Regions from separate parts of the Homo sapiens genome. Here all the other regions are linked to region 1. The links come from fine-mapping of genetic effects on gene expression. A gene starts in region 1. Each other region holds a variant in brackets. All regions are shown on one strand. Distances are between the middles of the regions. Region 1 holds the start of SOAT2 (sterol O-acyltransferase 2). Region 2 overlaps ATF7-NPFF (ATF7-NPFF readthrough). Region 3 has its middle 28 kb from the start of EIF4B. Region 4 overlaps KRT79 (keratin 79). Region 5 overlaps SP1 (Sp1 transcription factor).

Region 1 (6,118 bases):
AGGAATCCAGGCACCTCTACCACGCCCTCCCAGCCCAATTCTGCGGGTGTCCAAGACACTGAGATGGTGCGTTTGGAGCTGGTAGGGAGCAGGAGGGGTGGGAAGCCCTGGAGACTTCCATCTGAGACTGCTCCCTTGGGCTTGGAGACGTCTCCATTGTCTGTCCTGGGTGCTTGCCTGGTGGGCCAGAAGGTTGGAATGGGGAGCTGGGCTGGAGCGGTTCTAAGCTGCCTACTCTCCCTTCCCCAGGGCCCATGCCGTAGACATCTGGACTCAGTGCTGCAGCAACTCCAGACTGAGGTCTACCGAGGGGCTCAAACACTCTACGTGCCCAATTGTGACCATCGAGGCTTCTACCGGAAGCGGCAGGTGAGACTATTTTTCTTCTCCTCCTGCTCCAGCAGAAGGCTCCTGCCAGGGAGTGGGGGCGGTGCTGCTTACAAAGCTGCATAAATAAGACACTGCCCCATCTTTAAGGATCTTCCAACTTTAGGAGAACATAGAGAATATAATTTATTAAACAAACTTAGAGAATAATCAACCACACACTGTGAGAGAAAACCCACTTAAGGAATGCCCTAACTCAGTGGCTCTTGAACTTGAGGCATCAGAATCCTCCGGAGGGCTTATGCCACACAGATAGCTGAGCCCCACCGGCAGCCTTCCTGATTCAGGAGGTGTGGGGTGGGGCCTGACAATATGCATTTCTAACATGTTCCCTCGTGATCCGGATTTGGGAACGTCACTTTGAAAACTACTGTTCCAGGCTAGCAGAATGCACACAATTTATTGGTTGAAGAGGGGGAACTAAAGAGAGGGAACACTGGGCCGGGTGCGGTGTCTCATGCCTGTAATCCCAGCACTTTGGGAGGCCAAGGCTGGTGGATCACGAGGTCAGGAGTTCAAGATCAGCCTGAACAACCTGGTGAAACCCCATCTGTTTTAAAAATTACAAAAATTAGCCAGATGTGGTGGCATGCACCTGTAATCCCAGCTACTCAGGAGGCTGAGGCAAGAGAATTGCTTGAACCTGGGAGGTGGAGGTTGCAGTGAGCAGAGATCATGCCAATGCATTCCAGCCAGGGCGACAGAGCGAGACTCCATCTCAAAAAAAAAAAAAAAAAAAAAAAAAAGAGAGGGAACCCCCGAGGAGACGCTCAGGTGTTTTTACATCCTCAGACTCAGATGTCCCCTCTCATTCTCCTGCTGGAAGCCTCTGGCCTCACTCCTGACCTGTGTGCCTCTCTCTCCAGTGCCGCTCCTCCCAGGGGCAGCGCCGAGGTCCCTGCTGGTGTGTGGATCGGATGGGCAAGTCCCTGCCAGGGTCTCCAGATGGCAATGGAAGCTCCTCCTGCCCCACTGGGAGTAGCGGCTAAAGCTGGGGGATAGAGGGGCTGCAGGGCCACTGGAAGGAACATGGAGCTGTCATCACTCAACAAAAAACCGAGGCCCTCAATCCACCTTCAGGCCCCGCCCCATGGGCCCCTCACCGCTGGTTGGAAAGAGTGTTGGTGTTGGCTGGGGTGTCAATAAAGCTGTGCTTGGGGTCGCTGGCTTGTGTCTCTGTGTCTGCCTCTCACAATTCTGGAATCCCTGGCCCTCTCTTTACCCCACTACAGCTCACTCACAGCATTTCTCCTTTCCTGTGGATACCTTTAGTCCTTCCTGTGACAGCCAGGCAGAAGCTTCAAGCCATCAAGCCTCACAGAGCTGCCCACCAGGAGTTGGGAGTGGGAAGGGGAGACACTGAGATCATGGCCTTAATCTGAAGTTGTGACCTTGTTTCTAACACTGATCTTTGGACACAAAGGGAGGGGAAGGATTAATAGTTAATCCCAGCAGGAACCCAGCAAAGAGGAACTCTCAAAGCACATACCCTTCTGTTACTTCCTACTAAAAAAAGAAGGAAATTATTACTAATATATGAGCTCATCCCATGGCCCTGAACCATGTGATTTTACCTGGACAACCTCATTTTGAGCTTACGATAACCTTGTGATATAGGGATTTTTACCCCTATTTTTCAGAGGAGGAAACTGGCTTAAAATTTGGGGTCACTTGCCTGAAATTATATAGCTGGTAAATGACAGAGGGAGGTTTGCATCCGGTTCTTCCATATGTGACAATACCTGGTATTCCCTAGGTGCTGAATACGTGTTTGTTTAGTCTCCTTTCTGCCTACATGCTCACCCAAGCAGGTGTCAGGAAGCGGCCCTGTCAGTTCAGGGGCCCTGACACTCAGCCTTTCCTGGAGGGGCCCCAGTTCCGTGAGTAGCACAGTGCCAACCCCATCAGAATATTACCACATGTGTCAATCACACACCTTGTGGTGAAAGCGAGCTGAACGCACTGATACATGAAGACATTTCTGACTCCTCCCTGACCTTCAGCCTGCTGGGAGAGAGACTGGAAGGCCAGCCATGCTAGGTGACAAGCTTCTGAGAGGCAAAGTTCCCCTCCCCAAGATGTACCCAGCCACTATTCCTGTGTGTGTGTGGCGGGGTGGATAGCACCCTTGGAGCTGGGCATCTGGATGGTGGTTGGGGTGTTAGGGGGATGTGGCGATCCCTGCGACAGACAGCAGAGTGAGGTCTGAATCTGAGAAGCTCTGCCTCCAGATCAGATAACCTATCGCACTCCCAGAGGCCCCCTCCTCCTGAAAGGACTTTAGTCTTTGGAGCTGTCACCTGAGCTGAGTGGGACAAGAGCTCTACAGGGCAGGCCACACTGCGAAGGAAGGAGGCAACACGGGCAAGGGCTGCCTGCTGCCCGCTGGAGACCGCACCATGGAGCCAGGCGGGGCCCGTCTGCGTCTGCAGAGGACAGAAGGGCTGGGAGGGGAGCGGGAGCGCCAACCCTGTGGAGATGGTGAGCCGCCCTCGGGGGTGCAGAAGGCACAGGCAAGTGGGGGGGAGGCGGGGAGAGATGCGCTATGGAGAGAAGGCTCCAACTGCCTGATGCCAATCCTTCCTGCTGTCCAGAGAGGCCAAGGAAGGTAGACCCTGGCCTCAGCCCAGAGCCACCCAGCTGGAAGATGGAACAGAAAAGAGCTATGTCAGAGCTGTGGCCTGGCCTTATCCTTCTGACTGTTTAGCCCCAGATAGTGAATGGAGTAGCTTCCCATTCCCTGAGTGCCCTGTTCCCAGTAATGTCACCAGGCCCCCTGCTTGCCTATGGCCTCCTCACCACTGGCAACAGCAACTTCCCCTTCTAGTAGCCCCAACCATGATACTAGATATTGGCTGGTTGGGGTGAGGGCAGCTGCTGAGCACACAAAGCATTTCCTGACCACAGGATGCCTCTGGGTCTGCAGAACCCCAATTCCTCCTGTTGACTGTGCCTTTGATCCCTCCTCACAGGAAACACTGAGACGCACAGAGCCCCGGACTTGGTACAATGGACCCGACACATGGAGGTGAGGGATGTCAGAGGTCAGAGGTCAAGTGGACAGATCCTTGGTAGCAGGAAGCAGGAGTGAGGCTTGGTGATAAAGATGACTTTTTTTTTTTTTTTTTTTTGAAACAAAGTCTCGCTCTGTTGCTCAGGCTGGAGTGCATTGGCACAATCTCGGCTCACTGCAACCTCTGCCTCCCAGGTTCAAGCGAGTAGCTGAACTACAGATGAGTGCCACCAGGTGTGGCTAATTTTTTTTTTATATTTTTAGTAGAGACGGGGTTTCACCATATTGGCCAGGCTGGTCTTGAACTCCTGACCTCAAGTGATCTACCCGCCTCGGCCTCCCAAAGTGCTGGGATTACAGGTGTGAGCCACGGTGCCCAGCCTGATGACTTGTTCCTGAGTGCAAAGATCGGATTCGAATTAAGGATGGAGATGGAGGGGTTTGAAGCACAGGTCCCAAAGGTCACCAAAAGTCAGCCAGTAGATAGAGTCTTCCTGCTAGTGCGGCTGGAGGCCAGGGGTGAGGAGTGACAATCGGAGGTGACCAGGCTGGAATTCAGACCCAGGGAGGGGAAGCCTTGCTCCTGCTGTCACTCCCTGATCCTCGCTGCTGCCCCAGGAAGCCAGAAGGAGATCAACTCTGGGCAGGGATCATGGCTTGTTCATCTTTTTACCACAGCACTTAGCACTGCGGGGTCCTACCCCACCAGCAGACCCATCACCACCCCACCAATGCCTGCCCTTCCCCCCGCAGGCCTGCCACCACTGAACCCCCATCCCTGCTGACCCCCCAGGTTGTTTTTTTTTTTAAAAAAAGCACTGTGCCTGGCATAGACAGAAATTCAGTGAATGTCTGGTGAATGAAAGGATGGCTGACTGGAGGGACAGTGGGCTCTACCCTGGCTTTGTCCCGTAGGCTGTGAAGGCACAATTGCTGGAGCAAGCGCAGGGACAACTGAGGGAGCTGCTGGATCGGGCCATGCGGGAGGCTATACAATCCTACCCATCACAAGACAAACCTCTGCCCCCACCTCCCCCAGGTTCCTTGAGCAGGTGAGTCTGGGGAATGGCTGCGCGGGCTCCTCTGTAGCAAGGATCATGAGCTAGAAACATCACGTTATGTGCCCTTGCCAGCTTTATCAGGACCGTGACTCCAGCCTTCCCTCTTCCCCCCTTGTCTTCCTAACACTGACCTCCATCTACTGGGCCTCGCTCTGCCCTGGCCCTGACCTTCTACCCGGTCCTGCCCTCTGGCCCTAGCCCTGACCTTTCCCTACCACTCCCCTTGGCTCCCAAGTATTGACCTTCTGCATGGCCCTGCCCTCTGCCCATTTACTTTTTCCTGACCCTGAACAAACATCTCAATTCAGGACCCAGGAGCCATCCCTGGGGAAACAGAAAGTTTTCATCATCCGCAAGTCCCTGCTTGAGTAAGTCGGGGTGATGACAAGTAATGGGAGGAAAAGAAAGGGCTTTGGCTAGGGGTCAAGGTACCTCATTTCTCATCCCCAGCCTCTAGGTGGTTTGTGGAGAGGACTTGGAAAGGGTTTCTAAGGTGCAGGTCCCCTATTTGCCCTAGGCATGGTTGTGGAAGAAAGGCCTTTAGCTGGAAGTTCTGGATCGCTAGGCCCCATGCCTCATGTGTACAGTGTCTGAGCTAGTTCACACAACCCTGAGGACCCTCCCACACTGACTTTCGGGCCCCTGTCCCTCTAGTGAGCTGATGGAGGTGCAGCATTTCCGCACCATCTACCACATGTTCATCGCTGGCCTGTGTGTCTTCATCATCAGCACCCTGGCCATCGACTTCATTGATGAGGGCAGGTAGGTCCCCTTCCCACCTGGGACAGGCACACCTATCTGATCAGACCCTCTGGGTCCTCAGTGCCCCACCTGCCCTTGGGGCAAGAGGACACAGGTTCCCCCTTTGGTTATTGGACATGTACCAACATTGCTCCCAACAACCTTTCCACCTGAAACACTCTCTAGGATCCCTTCCTTCCCCAGCCTTGGTTGGCCCTTTGTCTGTCCTCCCAGGGCCGGCCACTCTCAAATGCTTCTCAATGACACCTTGCCCTGAGGCAGATGTGTGTGTGTGTGCACACATGCACACCCATACACACTCCTTTCCAAGTCAGTTCTATTCAAGTAACCTCCATTGAGCACCTCCCGAGTACCAGTCCTAGTGGCCAGAGAAATGAGGGGGGCAGACCCCACTCCTGTCTGTGAGGCACTCCCAGTCTTGTGGGGAAGACAGACATGTAACCAAGTGCCTGGGTGGGTCATTTCCCCCACAGAGCACCCCATCCAACTGTGAGGATGAGCCTCAGAGAGCTGTATACCCCTGGGGGTCTGTATTTTCATACCTCCCACTATTCCCAGACCAAACTGAGGGTTGGGGCTGCTATTTCTCATGGCCCAATAACGAGATGCAGATGAACTGGGGAGGAAGTGAGTTTTTATTTCTGTAACCAGTTACAGGGAGAAGGCCTGGAAATTATCACCAGGCCAACTAAAAATTACAATTTCCAGAGCATATATACCTTCTAAGCTCTACATCTATGTGTAGGTGTGCATTCATCTAAAGACATAAGTGATTAACTTCTTTTAATCTATAACTAAGGTCTGAGTCTTGAAGACCTTCTTCTGGAGCCTCAGTAAGTTTACTTAATCTAAATGGGTCCAAGTGCTGGGGTGATTACCCTTCTCTTATCTCCTG
Region 2 (6,296 bases), 510 kb after region 1:
TGGGCAACACGGCAAGACGCCATCTCAAAAGAAAAGAAAAAAAAAAAGAGCTGGGTGCGGTGGCTCACGCCTGTAATCTCAACACTTTGGAAGACCGAGGCGGGCGGATCACAAGGTCAGGAGATTGAGACCATCCTGGCTAATATGGTGAAACCCCGTCTCTACTAAAAATACAAAAAAATTGGCCAGGCATGGTGGCGGGCGCCTGTAGTCCCAGCTACTCGGGAGGCTGAGGCAGAAGAATGGCATGAACCCGGGAGGCGAAGCTTGCAGTGAGCCGAGCTCGTGCCACTGCACTCCAGCCTGGGTGACAGAGCGAGACTCTGTCTCAAAAAAAAGAAAAGAAAAATAAAAAAGAAAATGCTGCTACAGGAGTCATGTTGGTACCAGAAATATGATGTTAAATAAAACCAACAAGGTGTTATTCAAGTTTGATAAAACTTAAATATTACTGGCAAGAAACTTGGTACCAACATGATTCATTTACAGTAATTACGTCACATTCAACAAATCATCCTGATTTTATAATATAGTTAGGGGCTGGATGCGATGGCTCACACCAGTAATCCCAACATTTTGGGAAGCTGAGGCAGAAGGATCCCTTGAGCCCAGGAGTTTTAGATCCCTGGGCAAGAGAGCAAAATCCTTTCTCTGCAAAATAATTAAAGATTGGCTGGATCGGAAGTGAGGGGGTGTGCGTCTGTAGTCCCAGCTACTTGGGAGGCTGAGGCAGGAGGACTGGAGGATCACTTGAGCTCAGGAGTTCAAGGCTGCCAGTGAGTTATGATCACGCCACTGCATTCCAGCCTGGGTGACAAACCCAGACCCATCTCTAAAAATAATGATAATAATAATGAGTCAGGCATATTCCTATTTCAAAAAGAATGGTTGTGCCCTATTTTTCAATCTGACAAAATGTTTTTTTCTTACTGCATGGTAATTTTAAGCCCTCCCCAAAAATTGACCGGTTTAGCACACAAACATTCCTCGTCTACTACAGCAAAAAGAAGCAATCTATCAGATCAGGAGAAAACAGTAAGGAATTCCACTCAAAGGAAGCAAGCTGGGTTTTGTGAGAAGGTGGGGCTGTGGCAAAACATGTGACCACAGATGTCCATGCCACAAGCTCATGAAATGACTTTCTAAGCTAAATCTTGGCTCCCGTTAGTTTACTTTTGGGTTTTTTTGAGCCAGGGTCTCACTCTGTTACCCAGGCTAGAGTGCAGTGGCGTGATGTCAGCTCACTGAAACCCCCGCCTCCCAGGCTCAAGTAATCCTCCCGCGTTGGCCTCCCAAGTAGCTAGGACTAAAGGCGTGCACCACCAAGCCCAGCTAATTTTAAAATTTTTTGTAGAGATGGGGTCTCCCTGTGTTGCTCAGGCTGGTCTCGAACTCCAAGCTCAAGCAATCTGCCCACCTCAGCCTCCCAAAGTGTTGGGATTACATGTGTGGGCCAACTCACCCAACCTACACTTTCATAGACTTTCATGATATTTATTAAGAAGAGATACAATATTGAAAAGAAAAAAAGAAACTTTATGCACATTCTGGTTTCAAATGTATGGGAACACTGAGGATTAAAATTGCCAAAAGATGAGAAAAGGCGTGGCCGGGTGCGGTGGCTCATTCCTGTAATCCCAGCACTTTGGAAGGCTGAGGCGGGTGGATTGCCTGAGCTCAGGAGTTCGAGACCAGCCTGGGCAACACAGTGAAACCCCATCTCTACTAAGATACCTAAAAAATTAGCCAGGTGTAGCAGCGTGTGCCTGTAATCCCAGCTACTCAGGAGGCTGAGGCAGGAGAACTGCTTGAACCTGGGAGGCGGAGATTGCAGTGAGCCGAGACCATGCCACTGTACTCCAGCCTAGGCAACAGAGAACGACTCTGTCTCCAAAAAAAAAAAAAAAAAGGTGAGAAAAAGCTAACAACCTGAAGTCAAGGGTTTGTAATGAGTTTTACTGTAAACTTATGTATTATTTCTTTCTTTGAGACAGGGTATCACTTTGTTGCCCAGGCTGGAGTGCAGTGCTGCAACCTGGGCTGGCTGCAAACTCTGCTTCCTGAGCTGAAGCAATCCTCCCGCTTCAGCCTCCCAAGTAGCTGGCGCTACAAACGCATGTCACCACACTCAGCTAATTTTTGTATTTTTTATAGAGACAGGGTTTTGTCATGTTGCCCAGGCTGGTCTCGAACTCCTGGGCCCAAGCCTCCCAAAGTGCTAGGATTATAGGTGTGAACTACTGTGCCCAACCAATGCTTATGTATTATGTCCTTCTTAAAACTACTATACTAGGCCAGGCACAGTGGCTCACACCTGTAATCCCAGCACTTGGGGAGGTCAAGGTGGGTGGATCATTTGAGGTCACGGGTGCGAGAGCAGCCTGGCCAACATGGTTGAAACCCCGTCTCTACTAAAAATACAAAAATTAGCCAAGCATAGTGGCAGGCAACTGTAATCCCAGCTACTCGGGAGGCTGAGGCAGAAGAATTGCTTGTAATCAGAAGCCGGAGGCTGCAGTGAGCCAAGATTGTGCCACTGCACTCCAGCCTGGGTGACAGAGCAAGACTATGTCTCAAAAAAA[A/T]TTTTTTTAAATAATAATAAAAAAAAGACTACTATACTAACTCACCTTTGCTTTGGTTGGGAACCTTCGTTAAATGTTTGCCTACAAAATTTTAAAAGCTTATCTTTTTATACAAGTTTATCTTTTCATACAACCTTTCCTGAATTGTAACACTCATCCTTCATTTCCGAGGAAGTGATATAGCAAATACTTTCAAAATTGAATTGAATCTTGCCTCATTGTAAACAGGCAGTCAGTCCATTATACAGAAGACCAAAAAAAAAAAAAAAGTTTTTAAACAAAAGGACAAACAAGAGAAAGGAAGGAAACAAAATACTATGATTTAACAGGAACAAAACCCAACATTCTTTCAACACAAAGTGTCCACAAGGGAAATGTCGAAGAGAAAATGTCATGATAAAATATTTTTAAGATATAAAATGACTCCAATGCAAAATATTTGTTGTTGTTGATTTTTGTTTTGTTTTTAGCTCAAAGGAGTTATTATTTCTCGTCATTTATGTTCCTTACTTGTGTTTATCCATTCCCACTGGGTCGACAGAAACATTTCAATTTTATTTTCTTTACAGTCTATTTTTCTTCCTGATTCTTCAAGAGTAAGTTCCTTGATCTTAACTTCTATTTATGAAAGTTCTGGCCTGAAAAGAACCTTGAGGGGTTATCGAGTCCATCCTTCTGCTTTCCAGGAGAATTCATAACTAATGCTATCAGATGGATGAGAAGGTATCAAAAGAAAATGCATTGTTTCCCTGCCTAGTAGCATGCTAATTTAATATGCACATTCATTCACGATTTGCAATTTTTTAAAAACGAAAGTAAAAATTAAAATGCCAAAAGAGGAAGGTACTTAAAAAATGCATTTATCAGCTAAAATTGCTCAAACATAAATTCAACTGTCAGGTCTAAAATTAACAAGCAGGAAAAGTTGCTGCCTGCCAATGTAAAGTCTTTAGTCCCTAGAGATGTCTTCTGAAGTTGTATCTCATTTGTAGCACCCTTCACCTACAACACTTAGACCTGGCAAACTTAGACCATCCTTGCCAATAAACTACAATTATAAATGGCAATTGTGTGTGTGTGTGTGTGTTTATAGTTGGTATAGGTTTTTATTCCAAACAGAAAATGAAAAGTTAGGGTCGGACGCGATGGTTCTTGCCTGTAATCCCAGCACTTTGGGACGCTGAGGTAGGTGGATTGCCTGAGCTCAGGCGTTCGAGACCACCCTGAGCAACATGGTGAAACCCCATCTCTACTAAAACACAAAAAGTTAGCCGGGCGCAGTGGTGGGCACCTGTAGTCCCAGCTACTTGGGAGGCTGAGGCATGAGAATTGCTTGAACCTGGGAGGCAGAGGTTGCAGTGAGCCAAGACTGCACCACTGCACTCCAGCCTGGCTGACATAGCAAGACTCTGTCTCCAAAAAAAAAAAAAAAGAAGAAAATGAAAAGTTAGGTCTAAATTGGAGATGTCAACATTACAGGGAAACTACATAAAATTGTTTTCAGAGAGTAGTTTAATTCTTTCATTTCTAAGTTGAAATGTCCAGGGAATAAAGTTTTTTTCCTAAAAGAGTTTCCAAGGGCAGGTGGCTCACACTGTAAGCCCAGCACTTTGGGAGGCCCAGGTGGGCGCATCAACTGAGGCCAGGAGTTTGAGACCAGCCTGCAACATGGTGAAACCACGTCTCTACTAAAAATACAAAAATTAGCCAGGCGTGGTGGCATGTGCCTGCAGTCCCAGCTACTTGGGAGGCTGAGGGGGAGAACTCCTTGAACCCAGGAGGCAGAAGTTGCAGTGAGCTGAGATTACACCACTGCACTGCATCCTGGGAGACAGAGCGAGACTCCGTGTCAAAAAAAAAAAAAAAAAGAAAAAAAAAAGAAGAGTTTCCAAAACAAGCTGGGCATGGGGGCCCAGCCTGTAATTCCAGCACTTTGGGAGGCCAAAGCAGGCAGATCACCTGAACTTAGGAATTCAAGACCAGCCTAGGCAACATGGGAAACTCTGTCTCTACAAAAAATACAAAAATTAGATGGGCACGGTGGCGCACATCTGTAGTCCTAGCTACTCAGGAGGCGGAGGCAGGATAATCACTTGAGCCCAGGAGGCAGAGACTGCAGTGAGCCAAGATGGCGCCATTGCACTCCAGCCTGGGAGACAGAGGGAGACCCTGCCTCAGAAAAAAAAAAAAGTTTCCGAAACAGAATTTCATCTAATGTCAAAAAATCTGGCCAGGCACAGTAGCTCATGCGTGTAATCTCAGCACTTTGGGAGGCTAAGGCAGGAGGACTGTTTGAGCCCAGCAGTTCGAGACCAGCCTGGGAAACATGATGAGACCTCTACAAAAAATAAACAAAATTAGCCAGGCATGGTGGCATGAGCCTTTAGTCTCAGCTACTCAGGAGGCTGAGGTAGGAGGATGGCTTGAGCCTGGGAGACTGAAGCTGCAGTATGAGCCATGATTGTGCCACTGTACTCCAGTCTGGGCAACAGAGTAAGACCCTGTCTCAAAAAAAAACCATGGCCGAGCACGGTGGCTCACGCCTGTAATCCTAGCACTTTGGGAGGCCGAGGTAGGTGGATCACTTGAGGTCAGGAGTTCAAGACCAGCCTGGCCAACATGATGAAAACCCATATCTACTAAAAAAATACAAAAATTAGGCCGGGCGCGGTGGCTCACGCCTGTAATCCCAGCACTTTGGGAGGCCGAGGCGGGCGGATCACGAGGTCAGGAGATCGAGACCATCCTGGCTAAAACGGTGAAACCCCGTCTCTACTAAAAATACAAAAAATTAGCCGGGCGTAGTGGCGGGCGCCTGTAGTCCCAGCTACTTGGGAGGCTGAGGCAGGAGAATGGCGTGAACCCGGGAGGCGGAGCTTGCAGTGAGCCGAGATCCCGCCACTGCACTCCAGCCTGGGCGACAGAGCGAGACTCCGTCTCAAAAAAAAAAAAAAAAAAAAAAATACAAAAATTAGCCAGGTGTGGTGGCACATGCCTGTAATCCCAGCTACTTGGGAAGCTAAGGCCTGAGAATTGCTTGAACCTGGGCGGCAGAGGTTGCAGTAAGCCTGCCACTGCACTCTAGCCTGGGGAACACAGCGAGACTTCGTCTCAAAAAAAAAAAGAAAAAGAAAAAAACCACAACCAAAAGACAGTAACAAAATAACAACAAAAAATCCCTGCAACTATGAAGAAATATGGTTAATTTTCTATAATTATTTGAAAATGAAAAAAAAACAGGACTAGAAGTCTTGGAAATGGGAAAATTATAATTTTTTAAAATGTGGGGCAAGGGAGGTCGAGTACAGAAATCGTAGACTAGTGAAATATTATTTCTCAGAAAGATTCTAAATGAATTATTAAACAGATCACTTATGAACCACTGGCAAGTTATGCAGTGATCTATAAACAGTAGCATAAGATACCCAAACAGCAACTAATATGCAACTTCATTTTCTTTTTTGACAGGGTCACTAGCCTAGGAGTTCAGAGATGTCAGAGGCAGAATATACTGCATTTGGATTTCAACAAGATACCTCTTGCTATTTCATAGAAAATAAAGGTTAGATTATATAAAATGGCAGGTGGGATTCACAACTGAATTTTATCCAAAAGTTGACTAACAGGTTAATGTTAACATAATGATAGTCTACTCATGTTGTATAGCATTGTTCTACCCTTATACATGTTTACCAGTGACCTAAAACAAAAACA
Region 3 (6,296 bases), 130 kb before region 1:
CCAGCCCCCTTGCTCTCAAATTATGGCCCACCCGCTTCTCCATTCCCCACACCCACTGTCCCGGGTTGGGCTGAGGTGCCAGCATGGAGAAGCCACATGGCATGCAGTGTACGGAATCCTTCCCTGGACTGCGCCAGGCCCTCTGGCCCAGAAAGGTTCATCCTGTCCTGTGCTACCTGGGAGGTAGGGAGGGACTCAGGTCCAAGCCCCACTGTGGACAGAGCCCTGGCCAAGCATAGACACAGGGCGTCAAGAATCCCAGGAGAGGGAGGGTCTCATGGCTCCCCAATCCCACCCATCCTGCATCTTCATCAAGGTACTTCTGGGCCCCTTGAGACAGTGGCAGCAGCTGAAGGTGAGGAGTCAGGGGATAAGAGAGCATGAGACCTTCACCTCTCCACCCCGCACCTCTCTAATTTGCTTCCAGAATTATCTTTAAATCCACATTGTTGCCCTATCACGACTCCCCCCTGAAACACCTGTGATGGCCTCTCATTGTTGAAAGCATAAAATCTGATCTTCCCCCTGCATTCCATCTCCCATATCCACCTCCCTACTCAAGTGCCCCGTCTGCCCTTCACTAAACCTACTGTTCCACCTGAACTAATCTCAAACAACGTTTCCCAAACTGCCTCCTGCCAGGAGTTCTCCCCACCCTTCCATGTCCTGCATCCCACGTTTTCCTCAAGGCTCAGTGCAAATCACGCCTCCTCCCTGAAGCCTTCCCCGTAACTCGGCTGCCACCCTCAGGCTGCCTGCCAATGCTGTCTCCTCCTCTGACACCTCTTATGAGCACCACTCATCAAGATGGTCCCTTTAGTACTTGGCGTGCCTGGCCCCACATGTTGGCTGGCATTGTTTATTTGAATGAACATTGCCTTGGTACAATGATGGAGCCTGCTCTGTCCTCCTAGAAGAGACAGGAGAGAGAAGCCCATAGCAAGGGTCAAAAACTCCCAGCCTGAACCTGGGAGATGTCCATATACTGATGAAATGAGAGGTTCCCCTCTGGGTTCCAATGCACAAGCCCTGTACCAGATGAGGGAGCCATAAGGGATGCAGACAGAGACTCAAAGACAGAGACAAGGGCTGAGGGAGGGGGGATGGAAAGAACTGGGGAGCCAAAGACTGCAGCGGGGAAAGAATGCAGTGTCCATCCTAAAAGAAGGAAAATGGAAGTTTCCCAGGGAGGAGGGTGCCTGATCTTATCTGCTGTTTACATTCCAGAGAGCCCCTGCTTCTGCTTCTCATCTTAATTAGAGAATACTTGAGAAGCCCTGCCGCCGTGCAGAGAGAAAGGAATGCAGGCCCCCACTAAACCCCAGCCTGCCCCCCTCACCCCTGACCTCCTGCTGGCTATGTGGTGGGACTGATGGGAGTCTGGGTTCTGGATCCATTTTCTGTTTTCTGTTTTTTTGTCTACAGTGGGCTGATCCATTAAGCTGGATTCCTTGAGAGAGTATGTGAGAGGGTCTGGGAACTGTCAGGGCTCCACTCCTGCAGGAAACAAACAAACAAACAAACAAACAAAATTAAAAAGTATTAGAAAGAGCCACTGAGAGGAACAGCTGAGATTCTCTCAGTCAGTCTGCCATTCACCCCCTCAAACATCGCCCTCACTCCACCACCATAATGTCCAGGCAGGGTGCTGACACTTCACCGTTCACCTCCCACCCTGCCCCGGGCTGTCCTCCAAATGTGTGTCAGACACAGTGCTGGGGGACTTATACTTCTGTCATAGTCTCTGTCTTCAGTAGCATATGGTAAGAGCCAGGATCCGCTATTAAACATGCTGTGAGTGGGTAGAGACAAAGTCTTGTCTTGTAGGGTGAGCAGGCAGTGAGGTCAGAAAGGGCATCACAGGTAGAGGAAAAAGCATGGGCAGAGGTCTGGAACCCAGTCCCTCTTCATACCACCCGCTGACCCTTTCCCCTCCCCCCCACATGAGATTTCTCCCCCTCTCTTCTCTCTTCTCTCCCTCAACAATTCCAGGGTTGCCCACCTGAAAACAAGCTCCCTGGACCACCTTCCCTTGCAGCTCTCTGTTCCTTCTCTCTTTTTTTTTTTTTTTTTTTTTTGAGACGGAATCTCACTCTGTCACCCAGGCAGGAGTGCAATGGTGTGATCTCAGCTCACTGCAGCCTCTGCCTCCCAGGTTCAAGTGATTCTCCTACCTCAGCCTCACGAGTAGCTGGGATTACAGGTGCCCACCACCACACCCAGCTAATTTTTGTATTTTTACTAGAGATGGTGTTTCACCACATTGGCCAGGCTGGTCTCGAACTCCTGACCTCAGGTGATCCACCCGCCTCAGCCTTCCAAAGTGCTGGGATTACAGGCGTGAGCCACTGCGCCTGGCCAGCTCTCTGTTCCTTCTCATAGCTAAGCATCTTACATCATTCTCTCTCGTTTTGTTGTTGTTTTGTTGTTGTTGTTGTTGTTGTTGTTGTTGTTGTTTGAGACAGAGTTTTGCTCTTGTTGCCCAGGCTGGAGTGCAGTGGCGCGATCTCGGCTCACTGCAACCTCCACTTCCAGGGTTCAAGTGATTCTCCTGCCTCTGCCTCCCAAGTAGCTGGGATTATAGGCATGCGCCACCACACCTGGCTAATTTTGT[A/G]TTTTTAGTGGAGATGGGGTTTTATCATGTTGGTCAGGCTGGTCTCAAACTCCTGACCTCAGGTGATCCACTTGCCTCGGCTTCCCAAAGTGCTGGGGTTACAGGCTTGAGTCACTGCATCTGGCCTTACATTATTCTCAAAAGAGGTCTACACACAGGCTTTCCCCTTCCTCACCCAGTTCACTCTTCAGCCCCTCCAGGCTGGCTCAGCTCGTATGGCTCCTCAGAAGCTGCACTAGCCAAGGTTCCCAGAGACCTCCATGTTGTTGAAATCGATGGACACTTGACATTCCTTTTGTTCCTTGACCACTTAGCTTCCAGCAGCTGCATGCTCCCTCCTTCTTTTTTTTTTTTTTTTTTTTTTGAGATGGAGTTTCACTCTTGTTGCCCAAGCTGGAGTCCAGTGGCATGATCTTGGCTCACTGCAACCTCCATCTCCCAGGTTCAAGCGATTCTCTTGCCTCAGCCTTCCAAGTAGCTGGGATTATAGGCGTGTGCCACCACACCTGGCTAATTTTTTGTATTTTTAGTAGAGACAGGGTTTCACCATGTTAGCCAGGCTGGTCTCGAACTCCTGACCTCAGGTGATCCACCTGCCTCGGCCTCCCAAAGTGCTGGGATTACAGGCATGAGCCACAGCACCCAGCCTCTCCCTCCTTCTTGAAACACTCTCCTTCCTAGTCTCCCAGACACCTCGTGCCAGGCTTTTCTCTAGTTATAGTTTCTCGGTCCCTTTTCCCCACTCACCCTCCTTGACATGGTCTGTAACTTGATGTTTCTGATCTATAAATTGACCTGATATAAAGTTGATGTTCCTCAGGGCTGGGTCCTGGCCCCTATTCTCTTATTAATAGGGACTATTTTCTTGAGTCATCTCATACCTTGCCCTGGTTTTAATTGCATCTTCTATAGACCAAAGACTTCCAGATTGTGATGTCCAACCAGACCTTTCTTGTGAGCTCCAGAGCAGCCTATGGAATATTCTACTTAATGCCTCTTTTTAGATGACTCTTAGGCATCTCAAATTTAACCTGTTCAAAACTGGATTATTGATCTTAGCTCCCACCAGCTTCATAATTCTTGTTCATCTTAGTAAATGACACACCATCCATCTAATTGCTTGTGCCAGAAACCTGGGAATCATATTTGACACCTCCTTCTCTCTTGGTCTACCCTATGGATCTAATAAATTAATAACCCTACTTCCACAGTAAGTCCAAATCTATTCCTTTCTCCCCATCCACACCCCACATCCAGGCTGTAGGCATCTGTCCTCTGTACTATCACTGCAACATCTTCCTAACAGAAAGTCTTCTCATGGCCACCAGTAACCACTCAGCCTTCCTCCACACACCAGCCAACATGGTCTTCTTTAAAAATAAATCTCAGCCGGGCTTGGTGGCTCACACCTGTAATCCCAGCCAAAGTGGGCGGATCACCTGAGGTCAGGAGTTCAAAACCAGCCTGGCCAATGTGGCAAAACCCCATCTCTACCAAAAAAAAAAAAAAAATTAGCCGGGCATGGTGGCAGGTGCCCATAGTCCCAGCTACTCAGGAGGCTGAGGCAGGAGAATCACTTGAACCCAAGAGGCAGAGGGTGCAGTGAACCAAGATGGTGCCACTACTCTCCAGCCTGGGTGACAGAGCAAGACTCCATCTCAAAAAAATAAATAAATAAAAATAAAAATAAATGTGTGCCAGGCCCAGTGGTCCCAGCTACTTGGGAGACTGAGGTGGGAGAATCTCTTGAGCCCAGAAGTTTGAGACCAGCCTGGGCAACAGAGCAAGACCACCTCTAAAAAATATATAAATAAATAATAAATAGATAAAACTAGATCTCATAATATCCCTCACCTACTTAAAACCCTTCCGTGACCCAGGAAGCATCCAGACTCCATGGCCAGTGCCCTGACTCTGTGTTCCAGCTCCTCTTTTTGCAGTCTCCCCTGCTGACCAGCCTCCAGCCACACCATTCACTCCACACACACACTCCTCCCTTAGCTCCCTCCCACCTCCTCATCAGCGATCTCTCCCTCACCTTCCGAGGCTCTGGCTAAATGCTCTGGTATACAGAAGGAGCTTGATGAGTATGGGGAAGGTATGGGAACAGAGGAAGGGAGGAAAAGCCATGGCGACAGGGTGACACTTATAGCAACAAGTTGTATGGTGAGGGGGGCAGGTTAAGGGATGAGGCTGCAGAGCTCCCTTGAACTATCCCTTTAAGCATTTTGTAATGACTCCTATCCCTTTAAGCATTTCATAGCAAGATCTGCACCTGTTTGAGTTATTCTGTTTTATTTCTGGCACTGCATCAATATAGCCATTTGTTTTATTAAATGACTCTGATGGCATTTTTTTTTTTTTTGAGATGGAGTCTCGATCTGTCACCCAAGCTGGAGTGCAATGGCATGATCTCAGCTCACCGCAACCTCCACCTCCTGGATTGAAGCTATTCTCCTGCCTCAGCCTCCCGAGGTACGCACCACCATGCCCGACTAATTTCTTGTATTTTTAGTAGAGGCAGGCTTTCACCAAGTTGGCCAGGCTGGTCTTGAACTCTTGACCTCAAGCCTCGGCCTCCCAAAGTGCTGAGATTACACATGTGAGCCACCACGTCCGGCACTGATGGCCTTTTTGACTTGGTGACTCCAGCTGTCCCTGAGAAAAGCAGTCTTGCCTCCCTCTGCCCCCTGGTGGCCTTCTAGGTGCAGAGACCATTGTTCCAGTCATCCTGGCTACTAGAATGGCTTTGATTTTCTGGCTTATAGCACCACCATTTGGCCAAATTTGCTAATAGGCGGCTGCTCCATCCACATTGACTTCCAATTTCTTTTCAACCTTCTCATTGGCAGAGTTCATGGAATCAGAGCCTCTTGGAGCTTAAACAACGTCAGTGGACGTAAGAGCTCTCCAGAGCCTCAAGCAAGCTTGCAGTTCATTCTGGAGGGCCATGCTAGCGGCACAGACAGAATGGCAGTGATCATGGTGCAGGAGTCGAGGAACTGGCCCTGTGAATGTCAGGCATGTGTCCCCCTGGGTTTCCTGGTCCTTCCCTATTTGCCCTTGCCCTGACACACCTCTCATCCTCCTTCATGCTGCCTCCTGCACAATGCTTCTCCAGATTGGCTCAGTCCTATTTACACAGTCTTTGATCTGGTGTTTATGTCTTTTTTTTTTTTTTTTGAGACTGGTCTCAAACTCCTGACCTTGTGATCCACCCGCCTCAGCCTCCCAAAGTGCTGGGATTACAGGTGTGGGCCACTATGCCCGACCTATGTCTTTATTTTTTTTTTTATTTTTTTTTTTGAGACGGAATCTTGCTCTGTAGCCCAGGTTGGAGTGCAGTGGCACGATCTCGGCCCACTGCAAGCTCTGCCTTCCAGGTTCACGCCATTCTCCTGCCTCAGCCTCCCGAGTAGCTGGGACTACAGGCACCCGCCACCACGCCCAGCTAATTTTTTGTATTTTTAGACAGAGATAGGGTTTCACCGTGTTAGCCAGGATGGTCTCAATCTCCTGACCTCGTGATCCGCCCGCCTCGGCCTCCCAAAGTGCTGGGATTACAGGTGTGAGCCCCTGCACCCCCGCCCGACCTATGTCTTTATAATAATACCTAATATTTATATAATGCTTTGCAGTTTATGAACTATTTTATTTTATTTTTTATTTTTATTTTTTTGAG
Region 4 (6,296 bases), 280 kb before region 1:
CCAAACCATGGAGCTACGATTGAGGTACTTCTCATGAAGGTGACTTGAGGTGTGCCATCGCTGATACAAGAAGGAAGATGAAGGAAAGGCAGCGGTGCCTCTTGGGTAGAAGGGATTCTCTCTTGGAACTACTGTTATATGCTGAACACTAGGTGCTTCTTCCAACAACCCAGTCAAAGAGGTGCTTTGCTATGTCCAGTTTGGAGCTGCAGATATTGAGGCTCAGAGGGGTATGTAACTTGCCTGAGATCACACAGCCAGGAAGTGGTAGAGATAGGAAGTCAGTACTATCTGTCTGACTTCAAAGCTTGTGACCTTACAATGTATAAAACGGTAGGTATAATGTTTTATATGAGTGACTGGCCCACACAGAATATGCAGGGAAAAAAATACACAGCAACTTATACAGCCCTGTACCTCATGGTCCACCAAGACAGCCATGGGGTCTGGCCAGCAGGCTGCAAGCTCTGCAGATGCAGCTCCGCTCCTTTTTGTCCTTACCCTCAGCACATGGTCAGTTGCTTGGTTGATGTGGCCCTGTCCTTACAAGTACCCAATAAGGTATGACACTGTCCTGAGGGGCCAGTTTTGTATCCTCCAATTAACTAAATCCAAATTAATTTCATGACAAACCCTACCATAAACCCAATCCAAACAAGAAGAAAGTTCTAGTCTAGAGCCACATTCTGTGTCCTTATTATTAAATCAGAATTGCAAGAAGCTCACAAAATCTTCAAACTGAGCCTGAGAAACCGAAGGTAGACCTAAGGAAGAACTTCCTATGCAAGAGCGCCTTTACACCCTAGAGTGAGAGAGAAAGAGAGATGAGTTTCTTTCCCTGAAAACGGGGAAAGACATTGCCTTCATATGTGGGCCAGAGGCAGGTGGCTGAACAAGGCGCCACTACCCAGCAGCCACAGCTGGAAGCTTGTCCCCTGCCCCTCCCCAGACCTCCACACGCAGATTCTGCTACTGCCCTCGGTGACCCTTCCTTGTTTGGCAGCTGTTCCCAATCTTTTCACAGAGGGATGAGCAGCCGACAGGGGTGTGGAGCCAGGCGGAGGGAGTGTTTGCTCAGGGCTTTCTGGGTAAGGGAGGCAAGCCCTTACATTCAGCCCTGGGATTAAGGGATCCTGAGGGCTTCTGTCACTCTCATCTCCAAACCCACTGTGTGGTGTGGGAAAGTGCTCCTGCCCTCCCTGGCCAGGCGGGCACCCTCACTCCATTCGGTCACCCAACCTCAACTGCCCCACCGGGCCTGAGTCATTCTTGGGGAACCAGAGACAACACGGGGATCAGAGATTCTGCAGAAAAGGGCCATCAGCGTTTTAGGGAGAGGCCAGTGAGGGCAATGAGAGGACGGGCACTCCTGAGAGCCAGGTATGGGGGTCTGTACCCAGGGGCTCCTCTTTCCCCGGGCCGGAGAGCTGCCCCTGCTGGCCTCCTACCCCAGGCATATACAGGCAGGGGCTTCCCAGCATGTTCTGGCAGCAAAAGCACCCTCATAAACAAAATCACGTGCACAGCCTCATGAGTAAAACAGATAAGGAGAGATGATCCAGTTGGTGCAGAGGAGGGACCATGATCCTTCTCACCTGCTGACCTCCCCCTGCACCCCTGAAAGCAGCCCTTAGGGTCCTCAGTTTGGAAACCCCTGGGTCTGGGCCATTCCCCTCCTTCGACAAGTATGTCTAAGCAGCGCATTATTGTTGGTGGGCCCCCCTGGGCTGCAGTATAATCTCTGAGGCTTTTTTCCATGACAATCAAAAGTTTCTATTGTTCAGTTTTTGAGCCCTAAATATAATTTTTTTGAGACAGGGTCTCCCTCTGTCACCCAGGCTGGAGTGCAATGGTGCAATCACAGCTCACCGCAGCCTCAACAGCCTCAAGTGATCCTCCCACCTCAGCCTCCCAAGTAGCTGGGACTACAGGTATGCATTATCAAACCCAGCTAATTTTTGTATTTTTTTGTAGAGGCAGAGTCTCACCATGTTGCCAGGCTTGTCTTGAACTCCTGGGCTCAAGTGATCCACCTGCCTCAGCCTCCCAAAGTGCTGGAATTACAGGCAGGAGCCACAACACCTGGCCTATGATCTCACTAAAACTGATTTTTTTTTTAACACTGCCACTAAGTTACCGTGGCTTTGGATACATTCTTCCCCTTCCTCAACCTGTTTTCTTATCTATGAAATAAAAAGTTTGGAGTCGATTACATCCAATGCCCCTTCTAGCTCCAGCATCCCCAGGTCTCCATTCCTTTTTCTATATAAGCAAAATAACCTGGTGCTTAAGAGCTTGGGCTATGGAACCAGATTGCTTGGATTCCACACCTAGCTCTGCTACTTCCTAGCTGTGTGACCTTAGGCAAGTTACTTAACCACTCTGTGCCTTATTTTCCTTATAGGCAAAATTAGAATGATAATAGTATTTATATTATAGGCTGTTGTGAAGAGAATCAGTTAAAGGCTTGACAGCAGTTCTGGCACACAGTTGGCACTCAGTGAGCATTAGCAAGTATTCCTCAAAGTGTTGTACATGGGGTGGACTATACTCCATCTGTCTGAGAAGGGAAGCTAGAGACCACCCAAGCTGGTGAGGCAGAGCTGACCCTAAACCGCTAGGCCTTTGTGTTCCTAAGCTGGAGGTTAGGGTTTGGCTGAAAATCCCTCTGCTGGCCTTCCACAGCCCTGGAGGAAGCTTTCTCAGGGCTCTTCGGGGCTCCTCTGAGGAGGACAGAGTGATCAGGCCGGAAGAGTGTGGGATGCATCCCAGCAACTGCCAGGAGCCCTAAGGTTGCCAAGGAAGGGAGCGGAGTGGTGACAGCCTCGGGTCGGGCCAACTGGTTT[G/A]GTAGCAGGGTGGGGAGGGCCTGAGAGGTGCAGGGTTGAGAGGCCAGCCAATTGGGGAATCACTTGGGTACAGCTTGAGGAGTGGGGTCCAGACTCAAAGTAGAGAACTGTGGAGATGAAGAGGAAAGAAGGTGATACCAAGAGACGCATGGAGGGAGGAGCAGTAAGATTTGGCGAGTGATGGAGGCAGGAGTAGGACGGAGGTAGCTTCTGGGGTGACAGGACAGAGGGCTTGAAATTGCAGCCCTGGACACTACTGACCCACCTCCAGCCAGCTGGATGACTACAGCATGAGAGGTCACTTCTGTGAGCGTGAATCGCCTCACCTGTAAACTGGAACACCACATGCCCACTACTGAACCTAGGGCTGTGGTGATGGTCACAGGCAAAGTAATGTATGTGTAAACCACAAAACCCAATTAAGTGTGGATTTTTCTTGCCGACTGGATGTGGGGGCTGAGAGAGACATCACTGAGGCCAAGAGGATAAGCTGGGAATCCAGAAGTCAGGGAGTGGGAAAGCAAAGAAACCTGATTCCTGAAAGGGCCTCTATAAGCCAGATGCTTTACACATGTTCTTATCACAACCCACTTTTACAAAGGAGGAAACTAAGGCTCAGAGAGGTTAGGTAACTTGACCGAGGTCATACAGCTAGTAAGTGGCAGAACTTGGATTTAAACCCAAGTTGCCTAGTTCTGAAGCCTAAGACCTCTCCACTGAACAAAGCATGCTGTCTGCCCCTACAGAGTTAGTGGGAGGCTGAACAGGCACCAGGGGTGGCTGGTTAATAGGCAGCCACTTAGCCAGGTCTGGCCTTGAGCAGCTTACATATTCCCTCTGAGCCTTGGTCTCCTCTTGTGAGCCATGTACAGCCCTGGAGTGGCGATGGTATCAAACTAATGTACCTAAGTAAGCATGGCGATTGGGATGTGGTGAGTGTGTGATTATTGCTGTGTCAGGCATCAGGATGTTAATCAATGGACACAATTTCAGTTCCCCAGGCAGGACAGACTGCAGCCACAGACAGCTAGCTGCAGTTGCACCATTTATTGAGACACAGACAGGGAAGGGGGATGTGGGTAGATTCAGGGAGAGGGTGGGTCTGGTGGGGGACTGGGGAGGTTGAAGGGTCTTTGGGGACCACTCCCAATTTCTCTCTCTCCTAATGGCTTGAGAAATTCAGCCTCCTCTCGGTGGTCAAAAGGTCACCCCCAAGTCACCCAAGCACATCACTCAAGCTGGCAACTTTAACCTTCCCTCCCATCCTACTGCAGGACCAAGGAGAAAACCTGAGTAGATTTGAGCGCTTCCCAAGATGCAAATAGTCTGGTATGAAAATACCCTGGGTCTGAGGTCCCCTGGCTGTTCCTGCTCCTGAGAAGTGACTGGAAAGGACAGCAGAGGTGGGGTGAGGAGGGCAGGGACAGGATTGCAGGGGCCCTTGCAGGGCTCAGCAGCTAATACCTCTGGCTGGACGTCTTGACCGTAGTGGTCTTCCGCAGGATGGAGGTGCCCGCAGAGACTGGCCCTCCCTTGACGGTGCTATAGCCCACATTTGTGCTGAATCCACCCTTGGTGGCCCCCCCACTCCCACCCAGGGAGATGCCACCTCCAAAGCTGGCTGCGCCACCTCCGCACACAGTGGTGGAGTTGCCAGTCACAGCTGCAAAGCAAAGGGTCTGGATTAGTCAGGGCGGCCATGCCAGAGAGGGCTGGGGGAGACCCAGAAATCAGTGGGGAATCAGAACAAAATCAAGCAGCAGAGCTATGGGAAATGGATAGAGAAGCCCAGAACTAGGACCCTCTGAACCTGTCTCCAGGGGCTCGAATGGAGGAGAGCATGCTTTAGGACAGGTACAGGTTGCATAAACTGAGCAGAGTTCTGGGGCCTGGCCAGGGGTGGAGCAGGAAGTGGGGAGTAAATACTCACAAATGCTGACTGCACTGGGACATTCTCCAGACATCCTAGGGGACACAGAAAGGCCAGGAGAGCAGTCAGTTATCCCTGGTGCCCACATGAAAACCCTCTCCTTCCCTCTGCCTTTACATTGGATCCACTCAGTGAATCCTGATGACAAGACCAGGAAACATGAGAAGTATGTGTATAGGGCTGTGCCCAGGTCCAAAAGCCAGTGCTGCAGAAAGGGCAGAGCCACCAGTAGGCTGTGCCAACTCCCATCCTCCCCTTTTCTTTCCTCTCTGCCCATGTGGGCTACGGACAGCATCCCTGCCCCAATGGAAACAAGCCCACGACCAGACAGAGCTGCCTAGTTTCTGCCCACTTTCTATTTCATGCTTTTCCTAAGGACAGAGATGGTGGATTTTTTTTTCCAAAGCTTCCACTGCTGGTGAAATCTGCTGGTGGAAGAGGAAGTTCCATTCCTACCGGGCTGTCAGCCACAGTAAAGATTAACAAGAGTTGTGCCAACCAAGGAGAGGAGTGATGGAGGCAGTGGGCACAAGCAGATTTTCCCCCCGCGTGAGTCAGGATCTTGCTCCCTGGTTCCTCTCTCCCTCTCTTGACCCCGGAGCAGACTCCCTGGGCTCTCCCCCAGGGCAGGCCCGACCCAGCTTTCTGGGTCGGGCAGGAGGGGCCACCACCTGCTCTCCTCGCTCTCCAGAAGCTTGCGGTAGGTGGCAATCTCCACGTCCAGGGCCAGCTTGACATTCATCAGCTCCTGGTAGTCACGCAGCAGCCGTGTCAGGTCCTCCTTGGCCTGGTGCAGGGCCACATCCAGATCCCCAAGCTTCTTCTGAGCATCCTTGAGTGCCAGCTCCCCACGCTGCTCCGCTTCCGCAATGGCCGTCTGCAGCTGCTGACACTGCCCAGGGGAGAAAGGTGTTGGAAGCACCCTCCGGGGTCATCCCATTCATCTCTCTGCCCTCAAGCCATGGAGACATCATCATTCCCACATCCCTGCCCCCAACCAGCTGGGAAAGAGAGAAGAGAAATATTCATCTGAAGAGATGCTATTACACAAGCAGGATCAAGTAAGGCCACTGGGAAAGTCCTTACTGAAGTCTAACCTCAACCCCTCCTGCTGCAGATCAGCCCAATGCCTCAGAAGAGATGAAATAAATAACACAGCCTTATTAGTAACCAGGTGCTTCATTCTAATCTGTGAAAGAACCCACACTTTTTAGCCGTTCTAAAGGTGGAGTCGGCATCAGCATCTGTGACCTGGCCCCTTGAACCCTCTACCTCCTGTTCTGACTTCCTGGAGATGGGATGGATCAGTTTCCTTGGAGAAGGTTGTCCCACCTGCTCTACCACTCATATACCATGTGACGTTGGACAAGCTCCTTCCTGCTCTGTGCCTCAGTTTCCCCCCATGTAAAAGGAGCCTGTGATCAATGGCCTAGCATTCTATTGTGTCCGTCAGGAGAAGAGCAGGCCTAGCCCCTCGGGGTGACAATGAGAAGGCCCTGCCAACACCTAGGCCAGACCCC
Region 5 (6,296 bases), 280 kb after region 1:
TGCAGGCGAGCACCACCACGCCCAGCTAATCTTTGTATTTTTAGTAGAGACAAGGTTTTGCTATGTTGGCCAGGCTGGTCTCGAACTCCTGACCTCATGTGAATCCACCTGCCTCGGCCTCCCAAAGTGCTGGGATTATAGGTGTGAGCCACTGCACCCAGCCACATTTTCTGTTTTGTATGTTTTTTTTCCACACCCCTTTAAAAATGTAAAACCATTCTTAGCTCTAAGGCCTTCTTTGGCCTGTAGGCCAACTCCTCCATAGGATAAAAATTGATTATGGGCCGGGTGTGGTGGCTCACGCCTGTAATGCAGGCACTGAGAAGACGAGGCAGGTGGATGGGTTGAGTTCAGGAGTTCAAGACCGGCTGGGGCAACATGGCGAAACCCTGTCTTCGACAAAAATACAAAAATTGGCCGGGTGTGGTGGTACATGCCTATGGGCCCAGCTACTCGGGAGGCTAAGGCATGAGAATTGCTTGAATCTGGGAGGCAGAGGTTGCAGTGAGCCAAGATTGCACCACTGCACTCCAGCCTGGGCAACAGAGTGAGACTCTGAAAAAAAAAAAAAATACAAAAATTAGTCGGGTGGCTGGGCACGGTGGCTCACGCCTGTAATCCCAGCACTTTGGGAGGCTGAGGTGGGTGGGTCACCTGAGGTCAGGAGTTCAAGACCAGCGTGGCCAGCATGGCGAAACCCCTTCTCTACTAAAAATAAAAAAATTAGCCAGGCATGGTGATGCGCGCCTGTAGTCCCAGCTACTCAGGAGGCTGAGGCCAAGAATTGCTTGAACCTGGGAGGCAGAGGCTGCAGTGAGCCGAGATCACATCACTGCACTCCAGCCTGGTTGACAGAGCAAGACCCTGTCTCAAAAAATAAAAATAAAAGGCGGCCGGGCGCGGTGGCTCACGCCTGTAATTCCAGCACTTTGGGAGGCCGAGGCGGGTGGATCACAAGGTCAAGAGATCGAGACCATCCTGGCTAACACTGTGAAACCCTGTCTCTACTAAAAATACAAAAAATTAGCTGGGCATGGTGGCGCGCACCTGTAGTCCCAGCGACTCAGGAGCCTGAGGCAGGAGAATCACTTGAACCAGGGAGGCGGAGGTTGCAATGAGCCGAGATCGCGCCACTGCACTCCAGCCTGGGTGACAGAGCGAGACTCCGTCTCAAAAAAAAAAAAAATAAATAAAAATAAATTTGATTATGGGCTGGGCGCGGTGGCTCACGCCTATAATCCCAGCACTTTGGGAGGCCGAGGTGAACAGATCATGAGGTCAGGAGTTCAAGACCAGCCTGACCAATATGGTGAAACCCCGTCTCTACTAAAAATACAAAAATTAGCCGGGCGTGGTGGTACAAGCCTGTAGTCCCAGCTACTTGGGAGGCTGAGGCAGGAGAATCGCTTGAACCTGGGAGGCAGAGCTTGGAGCGAGCCAAGATCGTGCCACTGCACTCCAGCCTGGGTGACAGAGTGAGACTCCGTCTCAAAAAAAAAAAAAAAATTGATTATGAATTTTACCTGTTTGTAGAACACAGATTAAATCATCAGATATTTCTTGTGAACTGTAACTCCTAATTGAAGGGAAAATGATCTAACGGGTTGCTTTTCAACGAAGTAAGTTCCCTGGTTAGTATTAACCAGAATATCCCACACTCTGAGTGTGCTGGTTAATCAGGATTGAATTTTTTTTTAACTCCTAGTTATCTGAAAAACAAAATCCCATAGCTTCCCTTCACACTAACATATGAGCATCCTAGGTGATTCTGATACTTCTAGGTAGCAGTCTAACTTCCTAGACTGCTTTGAAAGTACTGTGTGTGGTTAGGAAGGGAGAAGGAAAGGGAGTGGGGTAAGTTGGGGTCTGGAATGGAGTGGGGGATGTAGGATTGAGAAGAGTTAGGAATGAGGAGAGCATTGAAGGGAAAAACAGTCTGGGAAGAATATTGAATCTGTTGACCATAATGTTCAGGGTCTTTCATTTTGAACTAAATGTTTCACTATTAATTTGAAATTTAAAACAGTAAACAGATGTAAGTCTATGTAGACTGTATCTTTTTTTTTTTTTTTTTTTCATTTTTGAGACTGAGTCTTGCTCTGTTGCCCAGGCTGTAGTGAGTGGAGTGGTGCAATCTCCGCTCACTGCAACCTCCCCTTCCTGAGTTCCAGTGATTCTCCTGCCTCAGCCTCCCAGGTAGCTGGGATTACAGGCGTGTGCCACCATGCCCGCCTAATTGTTTGTTTAATGGAGACGGGGTTTCACTGTGTTGACCAGGCTGGTCTCGAACTCCTGACCTCAAGTGATCTGCCTGCCTTGGCCTCCCAAACTGCTGGGATTACAGGTGTGAGCCACTATGCCCGGCCTGACTTTATCATTTTAAATTCCATTGTATGGAGCTAATCTTTAATAAAGCACAATAAAAG[G/A]ATACACATACATCTTTATATGCTGGCACAATTATACAAATACGGAAAATAGTTTAATATCACCAAATAATATCACCCAACTTCTAGGTTTGTTTTTTTTTTTTTTTTCGTTTTCTTTTTTGGGACTGACTCTAGCTTGTCTCCCAGGCTGGAGTGCAGTGGTGCGATCTTGGCTCACTGCAACCTCTGCCTTCCGGGTTCAAGCAATTCTTCTGCCTCAGCCTCCCGAGTAGCTGGGATTACAGGCACGTCCCACCATGCCCATTAATTTTTTGTATTTTTTTAGTAGCGATTGGATTTCACTGTGCTGGTCAGGCTGGTCTCGAACTCCTGACCTCGTGATCCGCCCGCCTTGGCCTCCCAAAGTGCTGGGATTACAGGCGTGAGCCACTGCGCCTGGCCACTTCTAGTTCTTTTGGCATATATATGTGGGTTTATAAATTGTTTACTTTTGTTACCAAGTTCTCATTCCATTTAACTGATTCTTACATAAGTGAGGGTAGCAAATAGGCAACCATATTTCCTGCCTCCTGCAGTTTTGGTAAATCTAGGGGGAAAGTCTGCTTAAGTTCCCTGATTTCTTACATTCCTGTGGTGTGTTTAGAAATACTACATGTTGAGCTTTAACAAGACAGTAATTTTCTTAGTTAATTGAAATCTTAGAATTGAAAGTTAGAGCTGGAAGGGACTGAAGTTATTTAGTACAACTGCCTTATTTTCTAGATGAGGAAATTGAGGTACAGAGAATCACTTAATGAGACAACAGCCAGAGCTGAGGCTAGTTTTACTAGTCTAGGGTGCAACCTGTTTTAACTAGGGACTTGAACAATTCTTTAGATTGTTAAAAATGTATTCGAGCCAGCCTGGTGGCTCACGCCTGTAATCCCAGCACTTTGGGAGACTGAGACAGGCGGATCATGAGGTCAGGAGATCAAGACCATCCTGGCTAACATGGTGAAACCGCATCTCTACTAAAAATACAAAAAAATTAGCTGGGCGTGGTGGTGGGTGCCTGTAATCTCAGCTACTAGGGAGGCTGAGGCAGGAGAATGATGTGAACCTGGGAGGCAGAGCGTGCAGTGAGCTGAGATTGTGCCACTGCACTCCAGCCTGGGTGACAGAGCGAGACTCCGTCTCAAAAAAAAAAAATGTATTCGAAAAGGTGTTTTTGATTTAAGATTTAATGCTCTAAAACTGACAGATGTTTATAAAACATTTATAAAAATGTTTTATAAACTAAACATTTATGGGAATAGAAATGGGAAAAGTTTTATAAAAACTGACCTCTACAACGTAGAAAATTAGACACTTCTGGGCAACCTACACCATCATGTTTATTTTCTATTTGCTCTTAGATTGAAGTGCCCGGTTTTGCTCTTCTTCAGAGCAAACTGTGGGATTATTCCTGTTAATAATTTGGATCCTTGCAATTTCTAAAAGGCTTATAACTTAGGGTTTAGAGAACAGTTATGAGGCATTCTCATTGCTAAATCATGCTCTGGGGAAGTCTGCCATTTAATATGTCATAGACTAGGGCTACCTAGTTGTTACTGATGGTGTTTGAGCTGAAGAAAATGCGTGTGTGTTTCTGTAAGGTAAGAGGAGCTTGACATTCACTAAGGAGATAATGAGGCATTGACAGGCTGTTTTGTAAGAGTTGAGATTGTTTGCTTCATTAATAGGGGTTTTTGAAGATCCAAGTTTTCTCCTTTCTGGCTAGTAATAATTGTGTAGTATTTCCCCTTTAATTGATATGACTTCATCCTTAAAGAAAGATAATAAAATCACTTCCTAGAGGCTTACTCCTTTTTCAGCTTTTGCCTTCCTGCTGGCAAAAGTATCTTGTTTTGGCCAGGCGTAGTGGCTCATGCCTGTAATCCCAGCACTTTGGGAGGCCAAGGCAGGCAGATCTCTTGAGCTCAGGAGTTCAAGACCAGCCTGGGCAACATAGGGATCCCCCATCTCTACAAAAAATATGAAAATTACCTGAGCATGGTAGCACACGCCTATAGTCCCAGCTACTTGGGAGGCTGAGGTGGGAGGATTGCCTGAGCCCGGGAGGTTGAGGACGCAGTGAGCCATGATCACGCCACAGCACTCCAGCCTGGGCAGTAGGGTGAGTCCCTGTCAAAAAAAAAAAGTATCTAATTTTACCCCCTTCTCTGATAGTTATTTTACTGTAAAATTTAACCTTTTTGCAGTATGTTCAACTTCTTGGTACGATGTAGAAAGAACATTGGATGTGAAATGTTGTATGATACATGTATATATCACTGTACAAAATGAGATATATTACATGATTGTGGAAGATTGCAGCTTCCATGGTGTTCACTTAGTCTGTTTACATTCATTATTTTTTAAAATGATCTTTTTTTTTTTTTTTTTTTTGGGAGACGGAGTTTCATTCTTGTTGCCCAGGGTGGAGTCCAATGGTGTGGTCTCGGCTCACTGCAACCTTTGCCTCCTGGGTTCAAGCAATTCTCCTGCCTCAGCCTCCCGAGTAATGCCCACCACCACGCCTGGCTAATTTTTGTATTTTTAATCGAGATTGAGTTTCACCATGTTGGCCAGGCTGGTCTTGAACTCCTGACCTCAGGTGATCTGCCTGCCTCGGCCTCCCAAAGTGCTGGGATTATAGGCATGAGCCACTGTGCCCAGCCGCTAATTTTTGCATTTTTAGTAGAGACTGGGTTTCACCATGTTGGCCAGGATGGTCTCGATCTCCTGGCCTCCCAAAATGCTGGGATTACAGGCGTGATGTTTCTTTTTTTTTAAATTGACACCCCTCCCTCTTTTATCAACAGCTTTTCCTTTCATTTTGTAGTCATATTTTCCCAGATCTTTATTTTATTTTATTTTACTTTTCATTTAAAGCCTCAGATGTTTTTCTTAGCCGCTGCTGAATCCTGAAACTCTTGCCGCAGGTTGACGGGGAGTTGGCTTTTAAAGATTTAAGTTTGGATGACTTCTTGTGAGTTCTGTCTAATAAAGAGTGCAGGGCTGGGCTTTGGCAGGAGAATAGAACATATTTCCTTGATGGGTATAATTCATTCACAAACCAAATTTCAGGTACTAAAAATAACAATTTCACATCTGCTGGGTTTTATTGGGGTCAGGAAAATGTCTTCTCTTAGAAGTTAAGTTGAATGTGATACCAGGGTTGGTTTGCCAAGGGTGTCACTAAACTTGGAGTCAGATTGCTGAGAGCTAATTTGTTAAAAAGTTGTGTTTTAGAGCAGTACATTTGGACATTAATGAAAAGTAGGTTTAGATGATTTAAATGTCTTACCAGTTATCATTTTTGTGCAAAAGGTCATATGAAAGAATTTTCTATTTTAAGATTATATTTTATCAAATATAATGTTGAATGTTTCTGCGTCTTTTGTCTTTCCCTAGTATTATACTTGTTTCTCTTTTTAATTTAAAAAATTTATTTTCTAGAGATATCAGCACAGAAAGATATACTTGTTTCTTAGGGTGTTTGGTGCTTTTTAAATGGTTATTTCAGTTTAAGTAGGAAAGATCTCATTTAAAATCTAAGTGCTTTGAGGGGGCTGGGTGCAGTGGCTCATGCCTGTAATCCCAGCACTTTGGGAGGCCAAGGCGGGTGGACTGCCTGAGCTCAGGAGTTCGTGACCAGCCTGGACAACATGGTGAAACCCCGTCTCTACTAAAATACAAAAAATCAGCCGGGCATGGCGGCGCGCACCTGTAGTCCCAGCTAGTCAGGAGGATGAGGCAGGAGAATTGCTTGAACCCTGGAGGCAGAGGTTGCAGTGAGCCGGGATCGCACCACTGCACTCCAGCCTGGGCAACAGAGCTAGATTCCGTCTCAAAAAAAAAAAATCTAAGTGCTTTGATTTGAAAATC

Evidence for each region.
Region 2: its variant is fine-mapped to the expression of SOAT2 in whole blood (INTERVAL, PIP 0.92).
Region 3: its variant is fine-mapped to the expression of SOAT2 in transverse colon (GTEx, PIP 0.94).
Region 4: its variant is fine-mapped to the expression of SOAT2 in lymphoblastoid cells (TwinsUK, PIP 0.94).
Region 5: its variant is fine-mapped to the expression of SOAT2 in whole blood (TOPMed, PIP above 0.99).

What each region holds. Positions count from the first base shown.
Region 1 is chr12:53,100,792-53,106,909 of GRCh38, forward strand. It overlaps SOAT2 (sterol O-acyltransferase 2), which reads left to right and starts at 2,695. Exons shown (of 15, transcript NM_003578.4): 1 at 2,695-2,868; 2 at 3,360-3,415; 3 at 4,316-4,452; 4 at 4,770-4,829; 5 at 5,116-5,223. The coding sequence starts at 2,787. IGFBP6 (insulin like growth factor binding protein 6) reads left to right here. Exons shown (of 4, transcript NM_002178.3): 2 at 1-66; 3 at 250-369; 4 at 1,254-1,549. The coding sequence ends at 1,376. LOC124902936 (a long non-coding RNA gene) reads right to left here. Exons shown (of 3, transcript XR_007063315.1): 3 at 5,841-6,118. RefSeq lists an enhancer at 2,277-2,805.
Region 2 is chr12:53,615,054-53,621,349 of GRCh38, forward strand. The region is part of intron 1 of ATF7-NPFF (ATF7-NPFF readthrough); the gene reads right to left. The region is part of intron 1 of ATF7 (activating transcription factor 7); the gene reads right to left. Among named protein-coding and RNA genes, the nearest start is that of ATF7, 8.2 kb to the right of the region's middle. The variant A/T (reference allele first, on the strand shown) is at 2,583.
Region 3 is chr12:52,975,694-52,981,989 of GRCh38, forward strand. No RefSeq gene overlaps it. Among named protein-coding and RNA genes, the nearest start is that of EIF4B, 28 kb to the right of the region's middle. The variant A/G (reference allele first, on the strand shown) is at 2,615.
Region 4 is chr12:52,817,569-52,823,864 of GRCh38, forward strand. KRT79 (keratin 79) reads right to left here. Exons shown (of 9, transcript NM_175834.3): 7 at 5,448-5,668; 8 at 4,777-4,811; 9 at 3,840-4,509. The coding sequence ends at 4,304. Among named protein-coding and RNA genes, the nearest start is that of KRT4, 6.6 kb to the left of the region's middle. RefSeq lists an enhancer at 651-1,152. The variant G/A (reference allele first, on the strand shown) is at 2,847.
Region 5 is chr12:53,384,423-53,390,718 of GRCh38, forward strand. All of the region lies in intron 3 of SP1 (Sp1 transcription factor), which reads left to right. Among named protein-coding and RNA genes, the nearest start is that of SP1, 7.4 kb to the left of the region's middle. The variant G/A (reference allele first, on the strand shown) is at 2,427.